Regions from separate parts of the Homo sapiens genome. Here region 1 is linked to region 2. The links come from fine-mapping of genetic effects on gene expression. A gene starts in region 2. The other region holds a variant in brackets. All regions are shown on one strand. Distances are between the middles of the regions. Region 1 overlaps WIPF1 (WAS/WASL interacting protein family member 1). Region 2 holds the start of GPR155 (G protein-coupled receptor 155).

Evidence for each region. PIP is the estimated chance that this variant, and not a neighbour inherited with it, causes the effect.
Region 1: its variant is the best candidate, but not a certain one, in a credible set for the expression of GPR155 in whole blood (INTERVAL, PIP 0.60).

What each region holds. Positions count from the first base shown.
Region 1 is chr2:174,557,560-174,561,953 of GRCh38, reverse strand. WIPF1 (WAS/WASL interacting protein family member 1) reads left to right here. Exons shown (of 8, transcript NM_001375834.1): 8 at 1-2,380. It also overlaps the pseudogene RNU6-5P. Among named protein-coding and RNA genes, the nearest start is that of WIPF1-AS1, 15 kb to the left of the region's middle. The variant C/A (reference allele first, on the strand shown) is at 1,724.
Region 2 is chr2:174,484,354-174,488,747 of GRCh38, reverse strand. GPR155 (G protein-coupled receptor 155) reads left to right here and starts at 1,719. Exons shown (of 16, transcript NM_152529.7): 1 at 1,719-1,875. It overlaps GPR155-DT (GPR155 divergent transcript), which reads right to left and starts at 1,360. Exons shown (of 3, transcript NR_183819.1): 1 at 1,332-1,360; 2 at 1-713. RefSeq lists silencers at 1,579-1,758, 2,022-2,204 and an enhancer at 2,099-2,168.

The DNA.
Region 1 (4,394 bases), 73 kb before region 2:
ATGCATCCAAAATATTTCAACCTGTAATCAACATAAAATTTTAATGAGATATTTTATATTATTTTTTGGTACTGAATCTTCAAAATCCAGAGTGTATTTTACACTTACCGCACATCTCCATTCAGACTAGTCACATTTTTAAGTGCTCAGTAGCCACATGTGGCTGGTGGCTACTGGATTAGACAGCACGAGTCTGGAAGATGGAAGCTAGTGCAGAAACCTCTTGTTTAAAAAACAAAAAAGGCAAGATGGGCTTGAGCGATTCAAGAGGCAACTAAAAATAAAATTAGGACCCAGCACCTTGTTTGACACACAGTTTGACCTTCGATTTTCCTCCCTTAACTTCCCTCTTCCCTTAATATCTGTATACAAGTGTTGCTTCAAAGTACCAAGGTCAGAAATTGATTGAGTACGGTTTACTAAAGTCATGTGGAATAAAGCCATTGGAAACAAATGGAAAGCCTGTCGGGACTTCTGGGCTCAGAACCAGCTGGCTCACGCACTCCACTTGTCAGCTGGACTTCTGCCTTGTGAAATGGAAGCAGCCTTTGTTCCTTTCTGGCTGAGCAAGCTCCTGAGGCTGGGAGAGACTAGGAAGGCTTGGTAGGAGGGGAAAAAAGTCAGGAAAATATATCAAATCAGAAACATGGAAGAAGAAGGGAACCGATTTGAGTTGGTGGGCAAAACTCTAAAAATCTAAATCTGATGCTTATGTAAGGGTTGAGCGAATTAGGGAGATTGCTAGTGGAAATTGGAGGGAATTTGTTTTGCATCATTTGTCTAGGATCTATGCAAATATAGCTCCACTAAAGGACCATAGGGAAGAGCCAGCCTTGCCTTTTCTTATATGATTTTGTTTACAAAATTTTACTGGGACTTTTAAATCTAGCTATAGAGTTGGGAAAAAATATTTCCACTTAGATATTTTACATGGTTTTGTTTAAAATTACCATTACTTGTTTTTTAAAAACACATGACCACATATGTATATGTATATCTACCTAAACATTGTATCATGGTTTCAGTATGTTATTCATGTATTACTGGGAGATGCTACCAAGAAACCAACCCAAAGAAAATTCTGAAAAATACATTTCTATTTATAGAATAAATGTTTCATTTATATAAAAGCAAAAGAACTTAGAGTTCTAATAAATGGGATGTCTAATAAATTATGAAGTTACTGATTTGAATATATTATATTTCTATAACTTCCTTGCCAAAGTCCTGATTTAGTACATTAGAGAACCTGTGTTTCCTCTCTCCTCTACCATTCATCTCTCTTCCATACAGTCATTTGGGCTTTTTACTCAAAGAGAATCAAGAAATAATAAGGTATAACAAGCTTGGCAAAGTGTTGGCTTTTTAAAAAAAAATTTTTTTAATCTCTAGCAGTTTGGTAATTTAGCAGCATCATTTATTTGGGATTCTTTTATCTGATTTCAACAGTGAAAAACATCCCTATGATAAAGCCTAATGACCCATTTCACAAAAGATGGAATTTGCCCTTCCTAGAAAATATGACGGAGAAAAGTCTGACTCAGAGAAAGTGGGTCTGAATTTTATAAGGGGTAGTAAGAATTGGACAATTCCTTTGCATATCTGAACTTGGCAGGTACCGTTCTAAATCTGAAACAGGGTGATAGCTCAAAGTTGCCATTCATCCAGAATAGATTGTTTTAGAATGTAGTGTTTAAGTGACTGTTTCATTAATACACCTACA[C/A]CCTTTCTTTGAAAGTTTGCAACCTAATTGCATCTAAAACTATGAATAAGTTCTGTGGTAAAATCTTAAACTATGGAAAATTACAAAAATGAATTTTTCTTCCCTGAAATCAGAGCTTACATGTGTGTTTTTTTATAACATTTTCAGATAAATGTATTCAACATGTAATACAGTATTTTAACATTCACCTCTTATTTTATATTGAAATGTATTACAGTATTAAAACTCAGTGTTCAGTATTTATTTCACTATGCATTTTATTTAGTAAAAGCCAGGAGAAATGTTTAATCCAATGGTGCCTTACTTTGTGATTTAAAAGAAATCAACTTTTTTTTATGTCTAAGTAGTAGATTATTTGCATATTTGTAAAAACTGTTAGGTCTTTATATTTTAAAGTGTAATACCAGTTTTGTTATTTTAGTAGCAGAAATGGGATGATTGTTAAAGTTCCCCAAAAATGTTGGCATGAAATTAATTTTTCCCTCCTTATAGTCAAGGACCGTAGAGGAAGAAAAACTTTTTTTTCATACCATGCACTATGTAAACAGACACATTTTGCTATCTGTGTCATCAGGATAGTGTAAGTGGTAGGGTAGAGACTACCCTAGACATCTGCATCTTTGTAAGTTAGCCAGACAATAAAGAAAAGCAGAATGATATGGTGTCAACTGGTGGTTTTTCTTTTAAGTATTGTTTATGTAAATATAAACAAAAAAACAAGTGTCTGTTTTCGGTTTTAAACTGTGGAAAAGAAAGACAAACAAAAAAAGGTTTGTATAAGTAAGTAAATATTCATTGTACCTACTTGCTAATCCCATCTTCGTTTTTTCCGAGAATCTGCATCTTAGTCAAAATCTGTTTACTTGAGGCAGATGTTTGTACTAGGAGGTAAAGATGGATGGCTGAAGCAATGGAAGATGAAATTACAAAGACTGGCATGGATACTGATAAATACAGGAAAGGCCAATGGGAATTTAGGAGTCTGATAACTTTCTTAATTATCTGCTGTATGTATACATACAGATCTCAATATAGAAGAATGGCTAAGAGCTTAGGAAGACCTGGCTCCGTGTCTTACTTGCAAGTCACTTCACTAAACCTGTTTCCTTATCTATAAGGTGAGGAACTATCTTATAGCATTAATATATGCATTAAATGAGATAATGCACTCAGCATTTAGCCTTAGTGTAAGCACTCAATAAGGAGTAGCCACTATTAGTGTGAAGTAGGAAACAAATATTTATATAATGATCCCAAATTAACTGGAGCCAAATCCACTAGAAGGGGATCTACTAGTGTACTTTTAAAGGAAAGGAGCACTAGCTCCTAGATTGAAAAAATATCCATATCAGAAATGCAAAGCAACTTCTACATAAGGGTCACCTCACCTACCATCCTCCCTGTACCTCCAGGCCTGGAAAATGAAATTTTACCGTGCTTCAGTCATCAGAGAAGTATTATTAGGTTCAGTATGAAATAACAGAAATTAAGAGCCAGAACTTCGCAGATGGGGCAACCTTAGAATTTATGATCCACAATGGAACATTTTTGAGAGTGGAAGGGGTGCTAATAGTTGCAGTGGCAAAGCAGGTATAAGTCTGGGTTGCCTTGGAAAATGGGGCCGTGTGGTCACCCCACTCAGAGGTCATCCAGTCCAAACGTCTGGGCTTACAGATGGGCAATTTAAGGCCCTAAATGATGTGACTTCTCACTGTACTGTCCCATCTTCATAGTCTTTCCTGCCCCTCTCTCTATCACTGTTTTATGTGTCTTTCACATTGGCTGGAAAGAACAGGCCAAATGAGAGGTTACAGCGTCACAGCAAAAGCCGTGCACTCACAAATCTGCGTTTGGATTCTGGCTCTGCCACTTGCTCCCTGTGAGGCCATAGACAAATTATTTAAGTCTGAGTTCTAGCTTCCTCAAGTGCAAAATGGTTACAAAGCTTAAATAATACACATCCAGAAGCTTTGTAGGTGGTTTATTGAAAAAAAATAAATTTTAAAATAAATAAGTAAATATGCAAAACTCAAGCAAGATACCTGGCATATGTTAGGCACTCAATGAAAATTAACTCCATTTCATTTCTTAATCATTTTGCCATCAAACCTAGGCCATATTCATGACAGAATTCTCAAACGCAAAGAAGTCTTGACAAGTGCTCGCTTCGGCAGCACATATACTAAAATTGGAACGATACAGAGAAGATTAGCATGGCCCCTGCGCAAGGATGACACGCAAATTCGTGAAGCGTTCCATATTTTTAGATATACCTAATGCTAGATGACGAGTTAGTGGGTGCAGCACACCAGCATGGCACATGTATACATATGTAACTAACCTGCACATTGTGCACATGTACCCTAAAACTTAAAGTATAATAATAATAAATAAATAAATAAATAAAGAAGTCTTGACAAAATTCAGTTGCAGAATCTTTAGGAATAAAAATTGCTTTAAGTCTGGCCTCGTTTGTTCAAAGTGGAATTATTTATTTGATTCATTCATTTAATAAGTTTTTATTGAGCACTTACTGTTTACCAGCTTCACCACAAATGACCTATTAACTGGTATCCCCACCGTGACTGTAGTGGTCAAGTGATCTCTGAGTGGCAGGTAAGGAGGCCAGCACCCATTCCAAACAGGCATGGGGGCAACTTCAGTCACCCAA
Region 2 (4,394 bases):
CAGTTAAAAGTGAGGAAGACAGAGAACAAAGGAGAAGCAAAGAGAACTGGAGCAGGATCCATGCCTTTTATAGCTTTAATTTCTGCTCATTTTTCCTGCTAAGTTTCAGATCCTTTAACCTACCCTTAGCTTACTGTAATTTTTCTTAATAAGCCACACAATTTTGTATCTTTGCACTAAGATGGCCGAGATGATAGGAAGACACGGAAATTGCCATACAGAAATGTTTAAGATGCAAAGCAAGATAAAAGGTTGTAAACAAATGCTTGTAGATATCTTAAGTGGAAACATATATAAATATTTTAAAATTTGAAATAATTTTTATTTCAAAAGGCTAACTCAATTGCAGGATTTCTTCAGGTTTCAAAGTGGAGCACCATATTTGGGATACTATATATAGGTTTGTTGTCTGATGCCCATGGCAAGTTAATACACTGGGACACCAGGTTGCAGAAGAGAAAGAGGTTTAATCATAGGGCCACCAAACACAGATAGGAGGAAACCTCAAATTCGTCTCCAGGAGGACTTTGAGTCTCAGGTTCTTAAGGGTTTTAGAGTGGTCCCAAGTGTGGAGATCATTAATTGGCTGAAGAGTACAGGGCGAAGTCATGGGACAGCGAGATGAAGAAGCTGTATTCTCATGCTGATTCCCTTCTTCTGTGGCAGGGGTCTTCAAGCTGGCTGGCATCAGCTGTTTCGCTGGAATTTGGCGTCTGAAAAACATTTTAAGCAATTCTTAAAAAGCCTTACGACTCTTAACATCAGAAAGCCTATCTATAGGGACAACGGGATACAAATGTACTATCTAGCTCTACCCGACTTTCGGGTTACAAGGAAGTGGGTCAAAGTGTAGCCTGATTAATGCTTAATTATATTTTTGTCCAGAATTCTTATAAACCCTGTGAGGATAGTTTCAATACCTTTATTTCAAGAAGCTTTGGAAGTTTTCCATCAATGTAACCAGTTTCAGTATACTGAGTGGACATGCATGTAGTTCCCCACCCCCACCCCACCCCCGTACCGCAATAGAATAGAAGCAGTCATGGACGGGGCCCAGATTCTAAAACAAGCTCAGGGCTAAGGGTTTACATTTTAATCTCTTATGTAGGAACGTCAAGGTCACACTGCCTTGGTGAAGGTGGAAGGCAGGATTTTGACCCAGGTCTGATTCTAAGCCCTTGCTTTAAAACTCTATGCTATAAAAAGTCCTGGGCTAACCGGGAGCGAAACTGGCAGATCACACGAGGTTGAGGTTAAGCGGAAAGACAAGTCTGCTCTGCGTCTGTACTTGGGAAGAGGAAAAAAAACTGGACATCCCCCACGGCGGCTACCATTTTGTGGGAGCAGGGAAGCCGGAAGTCCCGCCCCGGAGGATCGCGGCTGGGAGGCTCCCAGCCGGCAGGGCGGGGCCGGGTACCCTGGGGCTCCGAGGCTGGAGGAGGGGGCGGGGACTGAAGGCGGGGTTGGGGAACGTGTGGCTCGGAGGCCCGAGGCTGTGGGTGGGGCCTGAGGGCGGGACGGAGACTCTGGGCTCAAGGCTCCTGGAAATGGGCGGGGCTCGAGGGCGGGAAGCGGCCCGTCTTGCTGGAAGTTCGGGGCTGGGGGCGGGGTCTGAAGGCGGGGCTGGGAGGGAGCGGGGCCTGAAGGCGGGGCGGGGGCGGGGCCTCGCGGCCGGCGAGGGGCTGAGCTGACAGGGCCGCATCGGCTTACCCCACCTTACTTTATCGGAACGTGCCTAAGCTGCTGCAGCTGGCACCCGGTTGCGCTCGGCGAAGAGGGCTGGGGGCGGGAGATGACGGTGGTCTTCTCCCTGCTTGGCACCCTGCGAGCACCAGCTCCCTTCTCCTCGCCACTCCAAGGTTGCAGACGAAGCAGGTGAGAGGGGCCCCTGGAGCGCGGACCTGCTGGGTCCTGGTTCTCCCTTGCGGGCACGGGGTACCCCTGCCTCTGCCCCTCAGGCCTGGGCACGTGGGCAGCCGCCGACCCTCTGCGCCCTGGCCCCGCGGCCCGTTGTCTGGACCTGCTGTCTCTGCCCCGCAGCGCCTGCCTGTGGAACGTGTGAGATCACCCGGGAAGGCTCGCGCGGGGGAGGGGGTGTCTCGTCCCCTCCGGAGACAGAACTGCCATCCCTAGTTTGGGAAGCTCCTCACTGCACGGGCGTCCACCCTGTCTTTCTTAGACTCTTCCCTTTATCCCGAGGGTACCCTCAGTATCTGGCCCTTCCGAAGGCTTCTGCCCAGGCACCTGGAGCACTGCGCCAAATTTTCTCCCTTACCCGTTTTTGGGGTATGTTAGTTACCATGACGTTGTGACTCCCGTGCCCTGGGAAGACTAGCGACCACCTTTTTCTTACGCCAGGCAAAGACCCCTGGCTGCCTTTCCACTTCCACAGCTGCCTTCCCAGGGGTTGGCTGGCAGCTGCTCTCCGAGCAGCCTATTCGGTTAGGAACTCTCTGCGCCCCTTATCTTGGAGGGCCACAGTCTGTCCCTGCAGACGAGGCAAGGAGGCAGTGCTCAGCGCTCCCTACCCTGGGTCTCTAGGGAGGACATTTGGCGCCCTGCAAGTAGGTAGGAGTGGGTGAATGGTGCGACTATTAATGTTGAAGAGTGCTCTAATAGTACCACACTGTATTACACTTATCCCACGGGATAAAGGATGTTGGATGTTTGAGAAATAGCCTGAGAGTTTAAAGCTTTCTCTATGAAGTTAGTCAACCCTCGCCTTCCCCCCGCATTTTCACTTAATAGCAGTTATTTACAGTATCAGTGGTTCGTTTATGTGATCTAAGCCAAATGTGATGTGGCTAGAAGCGGTTTGTAAGTACAGTAGCATTTCTTCAGTTCGTGCCTCAGCGAGTGGTCTTTTACTGTGAACGTGTTTGTTCTGTAACAAGCTTTGTTTTTATAGATAAAAAGGCTGGATGTAATTTTTTTTTTAAAACTTCCCTTGCTGTGGTTCCTGTTCATTTTAAAATATGCTTTAGAAAGCATATTATCTTCCCGTTTAAAAAAGATTAGGATGAAATGAAACTTTTAAAGTCATTTTGATTATTTTGACTTTACCTCAGCAGGTATTTCTTTTATAATACTGAGAAACGTTAAAAGAAACCTCATGGGGAGGGGCAGATTGCTTTTTTTTTTTTTTTTTCTTGAGACGGAGTCTTGCTCTGTTGCTCAGGCTGGAGGGCAATGGCAGGATCTCGGCTCACTGCAACCTCTGCCTCCCGGGTGCAAGAGATTCTCCTGCCTCAGCTTCCCGAGTAGCTGGGATTACAGGCATCTGCCACCAAGCCCGGCTAATTTTTGTCTTTTTAGTAGAGACAGGGTTTCACCATGCTGGCCAGGCTGGTCTCCAACTCCCGACCTCAGGTGATCCGCCCGCCTCGACCTCCCAGAGTGCTGGGATTACAGGCGTGAGCCACTGCGCCCGGCCCTTTTTTTTGTTTTGTTTTTTTGTTTTTTAATTTTTCAACGAATTGAAAGTTAATCTTGGACATTGCTACAACTATTTGACCATCACCCTGAGAAAAATGAAGAGCTCTGCCTTCACTGTTAACCATTTACTATCAAACCAAATTAAATTCAACTTATCTTAATTGTTTGGTATAAAACAAAAACTGATAAATTTATGACGCATCCCATCCCTCTTTTTTTAGTTGGTGGATCTTTTACCAGTTATGTTTGAAGAACTAACATGTTTACTTTTTTATCATTATTAGTAGTAAGACAACAGTTCCTAATAGCAATTGCTGCCGTTTTTTGAAGGCCTACTCTGTGATAAGCTGTATATAAAATATTCTATCCACACAATATCCCTCTAAGGAGGTCTTTGTTTGAGACAGGGTCTTACTCAGGCTGGAGTGCAGTGGTGTGATCATGGCTCACTGCAGAGACCTCCTAGGCTCAGGTGATCCTCCCACCTCAGCCTCCCAGGTAGCTGGGACAACAGGCACGCATGACTAAGCTCAGCTAATTTTTTGTAGAGACTAAGGTTTTGCCATGTTGGCCAGGCTGGTCTGAAACTCCTGGGCTCACACAGTCCACCTGCCTGGGCCTCTCAAAATGCTGGGATTACAGGCGTGAGCTGCTATGACTGATCCCTATAGGGAGGTTTTTACTCTCATTTTACAGTTGAGGAAACAAAGGTTCAGAAAGACTAAGTAACTTATGAGTTGATAAACCATAAAGCTCAGAATCTGTTTGACTCTCCACTGAACTTCTGCTAGTTTAAACTGTTGGTTAAAAAATATTATTGGAATGCCTTGACATGCTCGTGTTGTACAAGTAAGGGCTTATAAGCAGAATGAGTTATTAATACTCTAGGCACTTTTGAAAGTGAACAGAAGACTGGATTAATTTATCACTTTCCTGTTTAGCACTGCCTTTCCAAGTAC